Regions from separate parts of the Homo sapiens genome. Here region 1 is linked to region 2. Evidence: fine-mapped expression QTL. A gene starts in region 2. The other region holds a variant in brackets. All regions are shown on one strand. Distances are from middle to middle. Region 1 has its middle 15 kb from the start of POLA1. Region 2 holds the start of PCYT1B (phosphate cytidylyltransferase 1B, choline).

The links. PIP is the estimated chance that this variant, and not a neighbour inherited with it, causes the effect.
Region 1: its variant is fine-mapped to the expression of PCYT1B in lung (TOPMed, PIP 0.94).

What each region holds. Positions count from the first base shown.
Region 1 is chrX:24,674,786-24,683,171 of GRCh38, reverse strand. It overlaps the pseudogene LOC100288233. Among named protein-coding and RNA genes, the nearest start is that of POLA1, 15 kb to the left of the region's middle. The variant C/A (reference allele first, on the strand shown) is at 5,084.
Region 2 is chrX:24,642,379-24,650,764 of GRCh38, reverse strand. PCYT1B (phosphate cytidylyltransferase 1B, choline) reads left to right here and starts at 3,418. Exons shown (of 8, transcript NM_004845.5): 1 at 3,418-3,776. The coding sequence starts at 3,660. It overlaps PCYT1B-AS1 (PCYT1B antisense RNA 1), which reads right to left and starts at 692. Exons shown (of 2, transcript NR_046638.1): 1 at 616-692. RefSeq lists an enhancer at 3,173-3,222.

The DNA of each region.
Region 1 (8,386 bases), 32 kb before region 2:
TCTCAGTTATGTCTTTATCAGCAGCGTGAGGACAGACTAATACGAAGATCTTCCTCAGATCCTCACAGTGAGAATCTGGTGGGCTTAAGCCCACCAAAATGTGCGGTCCCTCCCATGATACCAGCCTCTAGGAGTCTCTTACTCTCATGCTAATCCACATTCAGCCTCCAGCTATTAATCAAAGTTACCATCTAAGTGTCCGTACCAGTTTATGGCCCCAGCAGCTTCTGCTCCAGGTAGGCAGATCTGGACTGTGATTCTCTGTATATGCCTGTCTCTCTAGATTTGGGGATGGCAGTTTGCCCTGCTATCTCAGTTATCTTATGAGTCTAAGAAAAGTCATTAATTTTCATTCAGTTTGTCCATCTTTTTCTTGATATAAGGATGGTAGTGACAACTTCCAAACTCTTTACATGTGTGAGCTGGAACCAGAAATCTCTTGACCATCTCTTGTATATCTTCTTCTTCTTCTTCTTTTATTGGAGGGGAGGGAGCAAATAATTTTTAATTTTTTTTTTTGACAAATACACTTGAGAGTCATGCAATGCTACCAGAGCTGTATCTAATACTGGGGCACAATTCTGCACCCTCCTTCACAATCTGTCCTGTGATAGCAGAAATTTTTATCTTACCTTTATTATTTCCTATAACTTCCACATTATCTTCAAAATAAAGAAGCATTTCATCTTTTATCTGGTAAGACTTTCATTGTCAAATTACCACTGCTAGACCAGGCGCAGTGGCTCACGCCTGTAATCCCAGCACTTTGGGAGGCTGAGGTGGGTGGATCGCCTGAGGTCTGGAGTTCAAGGCCAGCCTAACCAATATGGTGAAACCCCGTCTCTACTAAAGTACAAAAGTTAGCTGGTCGTGGTGGTGGGCACCTGTGATCTCAGCTACTCAGGAGCCTGAAGCAGGAGAATCGCTTGAACCCAGGAGGCGGAGGTGGCAAGTGAGCTGAGATCGCACCATTGCACTCCAGCCTGGGCAACAAAAGTGAAATTCCATGACACACACAAAAAAAATTATCACTGCTGGGTGTACCTTCTTTCTAAGCTGTGGTTTGCCTTTCTTAACTGTAGCCATCACCACATCACCCACACCAGCAGCGGAGAGTCTGTTCAGCCATCCCTTGATTCCCTTCACTGAGAAAATACACAGATTTTTCAGCTCCTGTGTTGTCAGCACAGTTGATTCCACTCCTAACAGAAGACCCAGGGAAATCCAGAATTTCATACTGGAAGACCCATCACGTCCTCCCTTCAATATCTTAAAAGCTGGAAAAAGGCAGAAAGCTGTATACCTTTTTTGATGAAGTCTTTGTTCAAATATTTTGCCCCTTTAAAAAACTGAGTAACTTGTTTAATTATTAAATTGTGAACTTTTATACATCTGAAATAAAAATCCTGTAAAAATAAGTGTTTTGCAAATATTTTCTCCCAGTCTGTGGCTTACGCTTTTTATTTTCTTAACTGTGTCTTTGAAGAGTAAAAGTTTTTATTTTTGATGTAATTCAATGTACCCATTTTTTGTGGTTCATGTTTTTGTGTCCTATCTAAGAAATCTCTGCCTAACCCAAAGATTTTCTCCTGTTTTATACTAGATTTTTTATGGCTTTTACATTGAGGTCTATGATTCATTTCCATTTTTCTATATAATGTGAGATACAGTTCTTTTTTTTTCTTTTTTTTTTTTTTTTTTTTTTGCTTCTAGATATCCAATTGTTCTGGCATCTTTTTTATTTTTTAATTTTTATTGTGGTAAAATACATATGGCATAAAATTTATCATTGTAACTATTGTTAAGGATACAATTCAATTGCATTAAGTATATTCACAGTGTTGTGTGACCAATTTCCAGAACGCTTTTTTTTTTGAGACGGAGTCTCACACTGTCGCCCAGGCTGGAGTGCAGTGGCGAGATCTGGGCTCCCTGCAAGCTCCGCCTCCCGGGTTCACGCCGTTCTCCTGCCTCAGCCTCCCGAGTAGCTGGGACTACAGGCGCCCACCACCATGCCCGGCTAATTTTTTTGTTTTTTTAGTAGAGACGGGGTTTCACCGTGTTACCAGGATGGTCTGGATCGCCTGACCTCGTGATCCACCCGGCTCGGCCTCCCAAAGTGTTGGGATTACGGGCGTGAGCCACAGCGCCCGGCCCAGAACGCTTTTTATCTTACAAAACTCTATACCAGTTAAACAACAACTCCCCATTCCCCACTCTCTCTAGCCCCTGGCAATCATCTCTCTACTTTCTGTCTCTGTAAATTTTACTACTCCAGGTACTTCATATAAGTGGAGTCAAACTGTTTGTATTTTTGTTGTTGGCTTATTTCACTTAGCATAATATTCTCAAGGTTCATCTATGTTACAGCATGTGTCAGAATTTCTTTTCCTTTTTAAGGCCGAATAATATTCCATCGTATGTATATACCACATTTTGTTTATCCATTCATCCATCAATGGGTACTTGGGTTGTTTCTACTTCTTGGTTTTTATGAATAATGCTGCTATAAATGGTGCACTTTTTAAAAAGGCGATTGTTTTTATCATGGAAGTACCTTGGCATTTTATTGCAAATCAATCTACCACACACGTGGATCTATTTTCTGGATTTTCTATTCTGTTCCATTTACCTATCTGTCTATACTCATGGCAATATCACATTGTTTAAACTACTGAAGCCTTATAGAAGTCTTAAAATCAGGGAGTCTGAGTTCTCCAACACTGTTCTTCTTTTCGAAATTATTTTGGCCAATTTAAGTCTGCATTTTCATATAATTTTTATGATCAGTTAGTCAATTTCTACCAAAACTCTTGCGGGAATTTTGACTGGGATTACACTGAATCTATAGATGAATTTGAGGGATGTCTCAGTCCCGGCTGCTATAACAAAGTACCTTAGACTGGGTAATTTATAAATAACAGAAATTTATTGCTCACAGTTTGGGAGGCCAGGAAGTTTGAGATCAAGATGTCAGCAGATTTAGTGTCTGGTGGGGGCCTGTTTCTTATAGATGGCACTGGATGTCTAAGTGTGTTTCTCTTCTAATCACAAATTGATGCAGTTGCATTGTCCACAGTCATGAACATCTGGAGGTGAAGTTCTTAGAAATCCTTAACTTGCGGCCCCTCCAACACAACAATTTCTTCAGGATTCACATTTGAAGGTAAAGACTCTCTTTTGCCTTGGTAGATGGGAGAATGGAGAAGAGGAAAGGGGAAGGTGGGAAGATACAATGGGTTAGGCTCTCAGGTCAAGCACAGATATCTTGCATCATGCAAGGGTTGCTGGCAAATGGCAAAAAGTCACGAGAAAGATGTAAAAGCAACTACAAAATATATTATGCTCAGTTTTCTTCTAACTCAGTTTCACACCAAGCAGAAAGTGAGTTTTTCTATTAGTAAGAAAAATGTCTGCAAAGTGCCAGTGATCCATTAAAATAATTGTTGTGAGGTAGGGGAAAGAAAACAATGTCTGAGTCGCTTGGCTTATCACTCCAACAGCTCAGAGAAGTTTTGTTAATGGCCTAATGGATCAACAAACTTTAAAGACATTTATTTGCTTGGAACTGGGTTGTTTCACCAAGTTACTGCAAATAAAACTACTGTGTGTCTAAAAAGAAAACTAATAAATTCCGAACGTTGTTGTTCCCTACAATTTTTCAACGCATATATTTTTCTTTGACACTAGTTGTTCTCCAGATCCTATCTCTATCTTTAGCATTATTTATCTGCCAATAGTTCTTTCAGGAGTATCTCTTGTTGTGAAATCAGATTGTTTTTCTTTGCATTATTCTCCTATCCACTCAAAGCCATGTTGAAGAAGAAGAAAATAGGGCAATTTCAATGCCAAAATCATTTGTTCATTCACAAAATGTTTATTGAGCACTTAATATGTGCCAAGCACTGTTCTAGGCACTGGGGATATCAGCAGTGAGGCAAAGTCCCTGCCCTTACATTCTGTTGGGAGAGACAGACAATAAACCAATAAACATAATGTATTAATATTCCTTTGTAATTGGTATTCTAAAACAAAGTAAAGCAGGGTAAGGGGGAAAAGAGAGTGATGCTTTGGAGTTGGGGCATGAAATTGATCATTTAAGTCAGGGAGATATTCAATTTAACAGAACTTGATATGGTTTGGCTGTGTTCCCACCCAAATCTCATCTTGAATTTTAGCTCCTATAATTCCCAGGTGTTGTGAGAGGGACCTGGTGGGAGGTAATTGAATCATGGGGGCTGTTTCCCCCATACAGTTCTCATGGTAGTGAATAAGTCTCATGAGATCTGATGGTTTTATAAGGCGTTTCCCTTTTCGCTTGGCTCTCATTCTCTTGTCTGCTGCCATGTAAGACGTGCCTTTCTCCTTCCACTATGATTGTGAGGCCTCCCCAGTCACGTTCCACGTGAGTCCATTAAACCTCTTTTTCTTTACAAATTACCCAGTCTCAGGTATGTTTTTATCAGCAGTGTGAGAACAGACTAATATAGAACTCATATACTGATTTATAATTCCATGAAGGTGGATACTGTCGTAATTGTCTTCATTTTTCACCTGGCTTCAGGCTTGACACACAGTAGATGTTTGATAAATCCAACAGAAACAGCGATATGCAAAAATACCTACATTCTGCTTTTGAACTTGTGTATGTCTTGGCATCACGTGGATGGACTATGATTCTAGTCCCTACTTTGGAAATGCAAAATCCATACTTTGCATTCCTTCTTCAGAACTGTTGATAGTTAATTTTAGGAAATCCAAAAAAGCAAAAAGGTAGGGAGTCATCAGTAGTCACTTTCCTCCAGGCCCATGGAGCCTACCATCTCCTCATCTGTTCCTTTATTTCATCTCAGGGCTAACATCCCCAGAGCAGCCTTGGATAACGTCATCAGTCAAAGAGGAGTTTCTGCAGCCCAGTTAATCAGCAAACACACGGCAAATGATGAGAAGCAGTTACAAAATGCTTCCAGGATTCATTTATTCACATAACGATAATTTTTATTTTTATTTTATTCTTTTTTTTGAGACAGAGTCTTGCTCTGTTGTCCAGGCTGGAGTACAGTGGCATGATCTCGGCTCACTG[C/A]AATCTCCGCCTCCTGGGTTCAAGTGATTCTCCTGCCTCAGCCTCCTGAGTAGCTGGGATTATAGGTGCATGCCACCACGCCTGGCTAATTTTTGTATTTTTAGTAGAGATGTGGTTTCACCATGTTGGCCAGGCTGGTCTTGAACTCCTGAGCTCAGGTGATCTGCCCATTTTGACCTCCCAAAGTGCTAGGATTACAGGTGTGAGCCACCACGCCTGGCCGACAATAATTTTTAAAGCAACTACTCTGTACCAAGAAGTACTCTAGGGGTAGAGCAGATTATTTCACCTTAGTCCAGAATCTAGCCCTCAGCTACTTTGATGCAGAAAATCATATTGTTCATATATTCAGAGATCATCAGATTTTTAATGACAATCTACCTGTAATTATCTGTATAATTAAAATCACCAGAAAATGCTAAGTCATTCATTTCCAGAGTGATTTCAAATATCCCTAGCTGGGTTTGCCTCTAACATTTGTGGGGTCAGAGCAAGAGTATAAATGGAGGCCCATGTATCATAGGTCTAAATATTTAAAAGTTTGAAATCTTGCTAACAGACTGTACATATATGTGTGTATACACACACACACACACACACACACATACACACACACACACACACACACACATCCCATCTTCCTAACTTGACAAACATATCTTGTTAATGACCTAGGAGGTCAAGTGGCTTGGAGTTCTTTGCAGGAAAGGTGGTGGGGAGCAGAGCCCCTTCTCTGTTCCCCACCACAGGGTGGAACCAGCCTAGATATCCAGGTTCTGCTCACATCCTCCTGCTACAATCCCTTGCTTGACCACCCCTTGTGCCTAGAGATGTGCAACTCTGCAGTGAGATTACTCCTGAGAAGGTGGCCATGAGGAAGAGGCCAAACAGGCCCTGGAAGCAGGCTCAGGAATTTGGGCAGAGAACTCCAGAGTGTTCTAGAAGGAGGATGGGGGTCTCCATATGTGCACCCTGTCTCCTTGGCCCATGGACTCCTCAGAGGAGGAGAGCCAAAGCAGGACCCTTAAAATGGGGCCCAAGTCCATGATTCAGGGCACCCCCTACAGACAGATGAGGTACTAGAAAGGCAAACAAAATGCTGCTGGGGAATTAGTGGAAAAGGAGGACGGTTCACCAGCTCTGGAGCTGAGGCCTAGTTGACCATCCCTCCTGGCATAGAATACCCCCTGGCCAGAGAAGATACTTGTCCTCCAAATTCAGGTGTGTATCTCCTGTGATGGGGCTAACACAGTTTGCTTCCTCAACAACTCCGTTTTCTCTGAGGATCAGTGGCTGCAAAGGCTCCCTGCAGACTGGGAGATTACATAGGGCTCACCACGTAGGGCTGCTTCAGCTCAGAGGAGTACCTTTTTTTTTTTTTTTAATTCACACAAAGTGCCATACAAGGTAGCTGAGACCTGCTGCTGCCAACCCATTTCCAACTATACGGAGCTGGGCGATTCTCAGAGCTCTGGAGCACCCCTTGTGGTAGAAGAGAGTAAAACACATTTTTTTTCTTTTTTCCCTTTTAAAATTATTAATTTTTTTATTTGTAGAAATTTATGGGGTACATGTGAAATTTTGTTACATGTATATAATGCATATTGGTCAAGTCAGGGTATTTGGTGTGTCCATCACCTGAGTACAATACACTTCTGTTGACTATAGTCACCCCACTCTGTTATTAAACATTGAATTTACTCCTTCAATCTAACCCTATGTTTGTGCCCTTTAACCCACTTCTCTTCATCCTCCCTCTCCCACCACTCACCCTTTCCAGTCTCTGTTATCTGTCTTTCCACTCTCCACTTCTGTGTGATCAAACTTTTCAGCTCCCACATATAGGTGAGAATGTACAACATTTGTCTTTTTTTGCCTGGCTTGTTTCACTTAAGATAACGACCTCCAGTTCCATCCATGTTGCTGCAAATGATCTTTTATTATTATTATTTATAATTGACACATAATAATTGTACGTATTTGTGTGGTACAGTGGGATATTTTAATACATGTGTGCAATGTGTAATAATTAAATTGGGTAATTAGCAAATCCATCACTTAAACATTTATCATTTCTTTGTGTTGGTAACATGCAAGTTTTTCTTCTAGCTATTTGTAAAGATGCAGTAAACTTCTCTTAACTATAGTCACTGCACAGTGCTACAGAACTTTCAATACGAATCCCTGATACCATTTTAGTTCATGAGATTCTCAAAAGTAGAGAAGACCCTAGAAAGCCACCAATAAGTGTTTGGATAACAGACACCTCCATAATCCAAGGGTAAACGGCTTGATTTACTGACCCAACTAGGTCTGTGATGAGAATAGCCTATGTAGTGGTATTGGTGACTCTGTCCTCATTATCTTTGTTTTATAGTCATAATTAATCAAAACCTACCCTCTCACCTTTCTTGTGCTCATGACAAAGAATTACCTGCTCTAAGCAGGAATTAACTGAGGGAGTAGATTGGTAGTGATTCTTCTTTGGGATGTGAAACAAGAAGCTTGGAAATATAATCAAATGCACTGTTATTCTAAGGTATGACAGCAAGAAGCAATTTCAAAATATGCCTCTCTTGTAAACCATTGGGCCTTAATGACACAAGAGTGATTTTTCCATTACTGACAAGAGCAAACAAGTGCAAATAGAGGTGGGTGATTTTTCCTGACAGCTGAACCAGGCTTCAGTTAGTTTCAGAGAAACTTTCTATTTGAGTTGACCTGTTCGTGCTCCATCAAGTTGGGACATCATTTTAATGGATCCAGTGAATAAATCTGGAGGAAATAATGTGCCCAGGACTTGGGTATGGTTTTTTTGTTTTTTTTTTTCTGTTTTAATTCACTACTTGGAACCTACCTCTACAGTGTGGCTTACCTTTGATGGCCAATCCCAGTCTCTTTTGGGGAATCATCTATGCAAGATAAGAATAAGGATGAGGGCTGGGAGCGGTGGCTCATGCCTGTAATCCCAGCACTTTGGGAGGCCAAGGAGGGTGGATCATCTGAGTTTGGGAGTTTGAGACCATCCTGACCAACATGGTGAAACCCTGTCTCTACTAAAAACACAAAATTAGCCAGGTGTGGTGGCGCATGCCTGTAATCTCAGCTACTAGGGAGGCTGAGGCAGGAGAATCACTTGAACCTGGGAGGCAGAGGTTGTGGTGAGCCGAGATCGCACCATTGCACTCCAGCCTGGGCAACGAGATCGAAACTCTGCCTCAAAAAAAAAAAAAAAAAAAAAAAAAAAAAAGAATGAGGATGAGGATGAGGACAGCCAGGCTCGGTGGCTCACGCCTGTAATCC
Region 2 (8,386 bases):
GGAATCCCTAGGTCAAAGGGTATGAATATTCTAAAGGCTGTTAGCATATACTGACAAATATCCTCTATGGAATTTCTAATGAAGTTAACACATGCATGGATTTTTTGAAATCATTACCATAATCAAGATACATAATGATTCTTGGACGGCCACAGTGGCTCACGCCTATAATCCTAGCACTTTGGGAGGCCGAGGAAGGTGAATCACTTGAGGCCAGAAGTTCCAGACCAGCCTGGGCAACACAGTGAAACCCTGTCTCTACCAAAAATATAGAAAGATTAGACAGGAGTGGTGGCATACACCTGTGGTCCCAGATACTTGGGAGGCTCAGGTGGGAGGATCGCTTGAGCCTGGGAGACAGAGGTTGCAGTGAGCTGAGATTGCACCACTGCATTCCAGCCTGGCAACAGAGTAAGATCCTGTCTGAAAAAAAAAAAAAAAAAAAAAGCTACATAATAATTCCATTACCCCAATAAACTCTCTCCTGCTATCCCTTCATAGTCATCCCCTTCATAACCCTTATGGAATATTTAGCTCTGTAGTGTGGAATTAACTGATCATTCTTAGCTAATTGTCTTGATAGCATTACAATGCCCCCAAGTTAAAATAACTCACTCAAGTATTATCAAGAAGTTTCTGAGTCAGGTTGTAGCAGCTGCCAGGACTGGTCTCCAAAGTGGGTGGATCTGTTAAGGACTCCTCTCAGAGTGGTGCCTGAAAGAGCCTATTTCTGCCATTAAGACTGCAAGACATGCTGAGATTCAATCACAGGACTGTGGGGAGAGGAGCAGGAAGAAGCCAGGACTAGGCTGGAGCAGAATTAGTGGGAATGGAATTAGTTATAGAGCTGACCCTCAGGGCAGTTAGACAGAAGTCTAAATTTCAAAGTTCAAGGACTTGGGATGAGTAAGTGTCAGGTGTGACGGACTTAGCACAAAGTAGCACTGAAAGCTAAGGATTTGATGTGGGTAATACAATGAAGATATCCTAGGCAAAGGCAGTATCTTGGTTCAATGGGACAGGGGAGGATTAGGAGGAGAAGAAGGTGAGGAAGGGAGACAGAAGATATTGGGAGTCTAAAGGAATGGCCTAGGCTCTTGGACAAGAGTTCACAAGGACTCAGCTAGACATCAGAACTCTTTAAAATGAGCAGGTGAACAGGTGAACCTCTCATTCTGGAGAGAGAATTAGGTGACCAATTAGGAACCAAGGGGTGGCTCAGTGGCCAAGAATACAGTGGGGTTTAGGTGCTTTCCAATGTGAACAGTGACTCTAAGGTAGTGGTTTGTAAACTTTAGCGTGGGTCAGAATGCCTCCCAAACCAGGAGGTTTTGATTCAGTAGGTCTGGAGTGGGAAGCCAGAATTTCTGATTCAGTAGGTCTGGGGTGGGGATCCAGAATTTCTGACAAGTGACCAGGGCTGCTGCTGCACTTCTTGGAGAAGTACACTTTGAGAACCACTGCTCTAAGGCAAAAATACATATATTGAGATTAGAATAACCATGTCATTTGCACGTCACCCAGTACACGTAGGAAAAGGGCTCCTAAATGTAACACAGGGCTTGGCTCTTCCAGGTGATGAGCTGGTAGAGTTAAACCTGCTGCTGGAAGTGTTTTGTGCTTCCAGGAGGGCAAATAGGGTAGGAAGCATCACTGGAATTCTCACAACACTGGAGTTCTGTCCTGTATAGGTCATAATACTCTTAAGTGATGTTATTCTGACTTAAAGGGCCAGCATCTAAAACTGTCAAACTGTAATTCTCTGCTACAGAATCCATTTTCTTCTTCTTTTAGGACTAGCCCTCTTTGCTTATTGAGGAGTAATAAAAATAATGTCCCCTTATATTAGCATAGCACGTTCTAATTCAAAAAGTGCAATGACATGATATCTCATTTGATCTCCTTTCTGTGATGGAGGCAAGCCCGGTATTTTTATCCCATCCTTTGGGCTACTGATTCTCAAAGTATAGTTCCCAGACCTGCAGCATTAACAACACCCAGAAACTCTCTAGAAAAGCAAATTCTGACCCCACCCCAGACTTACTGAATCAGGTCCGGGGTCTGGCAGGGGGCCAATAATTCGCATTTCTAACAAGTTCCCTGGTGATGCTGATGTTGGTGCTGCTGGTCCCAGACCACACTTGAATGAAAACCACTACTGTAGATAAAAATGAAAGATGTAGAAGCCCAGGGACTTGTCCTAAGAGGACTCCTGCCTAGATCCTTTTCTTACTACACCTGCTGCATCCCTGGTCCCTACGCGCCCGCCCCCACCACCTCGCCCTTCGCAAAAAAAAAAAAAAAAAAAAAAAAAATTCCTTCAAATCCCAGCTGCATTATTTTAGAATTTTGTGAATGTGAATACCTGTAAAATGAGGATAACAATAGGATCTACCTCTTTGGGTTCTCACAAAGATTAAACAAGAACTAGGTAAAGTACTTAGCACCGTGCTTGTGCTTAATAAATGCCAGGGATCATCATGATTTTTTATTAATATTAAAAGTGACAATTCACAATGAATACCTTGGTAAGTTCTTTGGATGTGTGTCTTCAGAATGCTCCTCTTAAAATGTGAATGTCCCTAGATAATGTAGACATTAAAGCACCTGATCGTTAACATTCCATCTCTGATTGCCATGAGCATTTGGCTGAGAGCAGGGTACTTCGGAAATGGGACCCACGACTGGTAAAGTAGGAACCAAGAGAAAATAGAGCAGTGCATGGAACAGTGTATTGAAAGGCACACAACAGCAAGACTTCTTGAGGAAACTTTGAATAGCTGGGGAAGGGGAAGAGTGGCTGACAGAGGAAGCAACTGCGAAAGGGCAGCCAGGAGTAGGAGGCAGGCTGTTAAAGACAATCTACCTCCTTCAAAGTTCCCCCTAGGGCAGCCCCAGGGGAGGGCTCCAGGGCTACACCAGGCCACGAGGGGATCTGCCAGGGTTCACGTTGCATGAAGTCCAGGGGTCGAACACTCAGGTGCCCATAGTGAATGCCCGGAGGGGCCCTCCACTGGCAATTAGCACAATGAATTTGGGCTCAAAAGTGGCTTTGTCTTCAGGGTGACTCCTATTTGGCAAATATCCTGACTACAGCACATCATGCACTAGCTCATCCCAGGGACATGGTCCTTTATTAGTGGAGGTCTGCTATGTTGTTTCTCAAGGCGTCCTAGGCCCCTCAGGAAGCGGTTTTATGTTATCTGGGTGGCGCAGCCCGGGTCCCGTGCCCAGAGAGGACGGAGACCTTTGCAACTGAATTAAACAGAAGAAACAAAAGCAGCAAGTTCGGGCCCGTGGGTACGGAGGGCTAGCCAATGGGGCCCGGCCGCTTCCCGGCGGAGTGGTACTATGATGACAGTAGCCAACCAGCGCGCTCTATGCAAATGAGATACTGTATCCCGCACCAGCCGCTTCAGTGTCGTCTGGTTGTTATAGTGATAAACTGAGGCCTTGCCTCTTGGCTTCTGGGAGAGAGAGAGAGAGAGAGGGGCGGGGGGTAACCTCTTTACTTCCCCTAGGGAAGACAGAAAGAAGGGGAGAAGAAGCGGGGGGATGGGTGGAGGGTAGAGGGGAGAAAAATACGTGACAAAGAAAACATTCTCTGCCTGGGAGGAGACTCTCTGAGGGTGTAGAGCTAGAGGGAGCATTCACTGGCCATGCCAGTAGTTACCACTGATGCTGAGTCAGAAACAGGTATCCCAAAATCCCTTTCCAATGAGCCTCCCTCAGAAACCATGGAGGAAATAGAGCACACATGCCCACAGCCTCGACTGGTAAGTAAAGACAAAGGATGGAAATGTATGCGTGGCTATGGCATAAAAGAGTTCCTTATGCGCCCGCAGCCAGCGAGGAAAACGATGCTTAGAGGATTTTCATGTAAATGAGAAGAGCGCTACCGCCTAATCCTTCTCAGCTGTTTATACTTAGCTTCTATACCGGGCGCTGCTCTCAGTTTACAAAGCGTTATTGTATTGGCTGGGTAGGAAACGGGCTGCTTGGGATATGCTGTGTTTTTGTGCTTCGGGAGGAGGGGAGGGCCTTTTTCCTTTTAGGTGTGTTCTTGTCTGAAGGTAAAAAAATCCTACAGTGCAATTTTAAAATGGTATTCTCTTTACCAAGCTCGGGAAGAGTCCCTTGTTAAGTTTTAAATTCTAGCTAAGGAATGCTTCGTTCCTCAACTGATTTTGGTGCCTAATGCCAATTTGGGGGGAAAAAAATGGAAACATGGAAGCAAAACTTCCCCATCCGTTTGAAAATGTTCAAAATAAATAAATAAATAAATACATAGGAGTCCCTCAATGATTTAGTTAGAAATAATACGCATTTAAAACGAATTGTAAAACATTTCCAGAGTGTGCTGTGAGGGTTTCTCTTCAGGTAGTGGAAACCTGGGGAGCTACATTTATTTAGAAAGGGGTTGCATGCCTTTAAGAATGAAAGTGTGGAAACGGGGTACTGAGAGCGTCCTTCCGCCTCCGTAACTGCACCGTAACTGCTCTCCCAAATTTGGTCGTCTCTCTATCCCTGGTCATGATCTTTTAGGTAGATGTGAAACTTCGTTCCCAACCACCTCAGCATGTGTCCTCAAGGAATCAAAAACACGCATGGGTGGTGGGTTTTCTGTGGTCCGAAGTCTTGTGGAACTTGGGGAGACCTCTCTTTGAGTCCCCCAATCCAAAAGACACACTAGTTAAAGCTATCCTTTCCTTTAGCGATTTCCCTCAAGTTAAAAGGTGGAATATTTTGATTGGCTGTGGAGTTTGACCCTGGGAAGAGTTTTTTAAAAAAGGATTTTGTGATGTAGCATTTTCTGTGAACCTGCAAAATTAGGGCTCGCAGATGAGAAGGCCAACCCATCATAAAACTGTTATTTCTTAATAAGAGTTAATAAGGGTTCAAAGGAGGCTTAGAACAACTTCCTAAAAAGCACAAATACAGAGGAAGTTATATTAGAGCCCTGTGGGCTTTTTTCCCCTATGCTTCTATTTTTAAAAATGTTTTCTCTTAGGGCAGTTTAATAGTAACTGTGCCCTAGCACTTTAGCCACTTACTGAATGACATACACAGTGCAGTGTCTATGTTCTCATGAGATACAAACCATCCCAATAAGTTTGTTACTAAGGGATTCCTTTGAGTCACTAAACAACTTATGGTTTAGCATAAAGGAAAATGACCACTAAAAGCATATTACAAGATTATCATATGCACATATACATATATACACATAAATAGAGAGAGAGACTCACTCTGTTTTCCAGGCTGGCCTCAAACTTGAACTCCTGGACTCAAGTGATCCTCCTGCCTCAGCCTCCCAAGTAGCTGGGATTACAGGCTTGTGCCACAGCACTGGACCAATATATATATGTGTGTATATATATATATGTATATACACACATATATACATATATACACACATATGTATATATATTTGTGCCCATGCTTACCCAAAAATATATTTTTTAAAGTAACCACAATCTTCAAATTTGCATCACATACCTTCCTGACAGAGGTAAAGGGCAGAGGAGAGAAAGGCGGCATCCAGCTCCAGTTTGTGCATCATTTCAGTCTCTTTTGCCTACTATTTTTCCTTCCATTTTTACCTCTTAGCTATTCTGCTTCTTGATTGCTTCTGCCTGAGGGAGATGGGCAGAGAAAATTAAGGGAAAGAAGAAAGTTCAAGTTACTTTCTTGTTTTTTTAAGATGGAGTCTCACTATGTCCTCCAGGCTAGAGTGCAGTGGCCTGATCTTGGCTCACCACAACCTCCACCTCCCAGGTTCAAGCGATTCTCCTGCCTCAGCCTCCTGAGTAGCTGGGATTACAGGTGGGCAGCACCATGCCTGGCTAATATTTTTTTGTATTTTTGGTAGAGACGGGGTTTTGCCATGTTGGCCAGGCTGGTCTCGAACTCCTGCCCTCAGGTGATCCGCCCACCTTGGCCTCCAAAGTATTGGGATTACAGGTGTGACCCACTGCACCTGGCCAAGTTACTTTCCACTTTCACTCGTGACAGCTTATTCCAGGTGGTAACTCACAAGAACCACGCAAAGCTGGCAATGTGCTCTACACCCTCACCTCCCACCCATTGTAGAAATAAGGAAACTGAGGTTCAGAGAGGGTAAGTGACTTGCCCAAGGGTCACACTGCTTTGAAGGGGGCAGAGCTGGGATTTGAACCCAGAGCTCTACACCGGAAAAGTGGAAGATCTTTCTTCTATAACATACTCATAAGTGAGATACATTCCCTTCCCATCTTTTTGGCAGTTCTGGTTTCGTGTGTGTGTGTGTGTGTGTGTGTGTGTGTGTGTGTGTGTATCATGCACATGCATAGGTATGATACAGATGTACATAAGTTGAACTGTTGAAGCACCTGCTTTGATTTACTTATGATACAAAATTTTCCACGTTGTTCATCATTGTCATGGGCTACTGAAATTTGACTCTGTTTAAACAGGGGCTTGCAACCAATTTATAAAACACTACTAAAATTTTCAAATTGCCTTCTCTCTTATTAGCTAACTTTGATCACTGTAGGGTTATATTCTAAATTTAGATTTATACTTTATAGCCTAACTTTCCTTTGCTAATGATCTTACTTTAATAACTAAGGCACATGCTAACTACTTAATAAAAAAGTTTGTTGATGAAGAGAGTGAGCAGCAAGTGAAAACATGAAATTAGCATTTCTTTCTCTGGTTTTTAGTAGTTTCTGTTGATCTTGTAGCTTTGCTAGTGTCTTCATATTTCAAATTGTATAAATTCTGCATTTCTCCCAGCACCCAGGCATATAGCTCCAAATTGTATGTGGGTCACTGACACCACAGCCATCAACAGAGTGTGGCTACTGAGTTGCTTAACTAACTATGGAAAGTGTATGAAATATTTGCAGGGGGCCTGTTTAGGATTGAAGCTCCACACTTGGATTCTCCTTCAGAGGGCAGGCTCCTTCTCCTAGTTGCTGAAATGAAGTGGGGAGCTGGCATACGTGAGTGAATAAATAGACTTTAAAGCAGTCTATATTTTAGATCCCTGTAAGTAACAAATTGATAATAATATTGCAGATATGATTGAATTATATTTCAAGGGGAAGTTCTTCTGCCAGGAAAACTTGTAGTTTCTCTACCTGCCTTATTCTTCATTAGAGGAAAATATAAGAAAGGAGACGATTAAATAGAATGCAGTAACTCTGATAAAGAAATTAGAAAAGAAATAACAAAAGCATTACCTAGGTTTTATGATAGAGCCTATATTTTAGGAATATAATCTTACTACTCTTACCATTTTACCATGGTGCTCTGATTTGAGATGCTTCTGAGAACTCTTTACATTGTTACAATGTTTACTCTTGATTCTTGACTTGTTTTCAGTTCTTTACTATTTTCCTGATTAAACATGATGCAAGGTGACTCATCAGCTTGACTGTCAAGATGAGAAACTGAGTGGCCTTGGGTGATATGATGTAATAGCCCTTCTTGGAAATCTAACTCCTGAGATACAAGGACTCCTCTGAGCAAGGACTGTGTCCTCATATCTTCCCAGCCCTCAGATTATGCCTAGAAAGATCCTCTGGGCTCAGCAGGTGTCCCAGAAGCCCTTTCTAACAAGGCCCAGCCACCCTGAAAGTTGTCTGCTTGAGAATTTGGTTAATGACCTTGGACAAGTTCTTCTAGGGGTGCATTCTGTTGTCAGAAGGAATTGTAATTCTAGACTGCAATAGTCACTTCCATGAAGATGGATATACTATGGATCAACTGAGAAGGCCTTGGAAATAAAAAAGGGTTGGTTCAACATGCCACATTAGCAGGAGGAGTTCATTTCGGGTTTTACTTCAAAGTGGAGCAGTGCCAAGAGACTGCTGTCTTGCAGAAGGTGCATTATGTCAGTTTGGAGGTAGCATGCTCATCTGCTAGTATTCAAAAAGATGACCAGATTTCCAGAGACATCAATGGCTTCCTTTGCTAATATTGCCATCTACTTAGCCACCCAGAACAGCATACATTTTAAAAGTGAAACACTCTTAATGCGCAATATTGGCGAAAATAAACAAACGTGAGCTTCCTTGGGTATTTACTGTGGTCAACTGGAATTCTGCCTAAGGTTATTATTAGGTATCTTCCTGCTGGTCTCTATCCAAATGCAACATCCATGTCTTGCAAATTGATACTAGTCAGGTGTATTTAGCATGGAATCAATCAATTAGTTTCTTCCATTCTTTTAGGTTTGTTCTCTCACTACCCCTCCAACCCAATTTGCCTAATGCTAAACCCTTATGGAAGAAATAAACCTAAATCAAATATAATAGGTAGCTTCTGTGTTTTATTTTGATGATTTAGCATATAGAAATCAAAAGAGTGCATGTATATGTCCTCAATCAGGCAGTGAGGA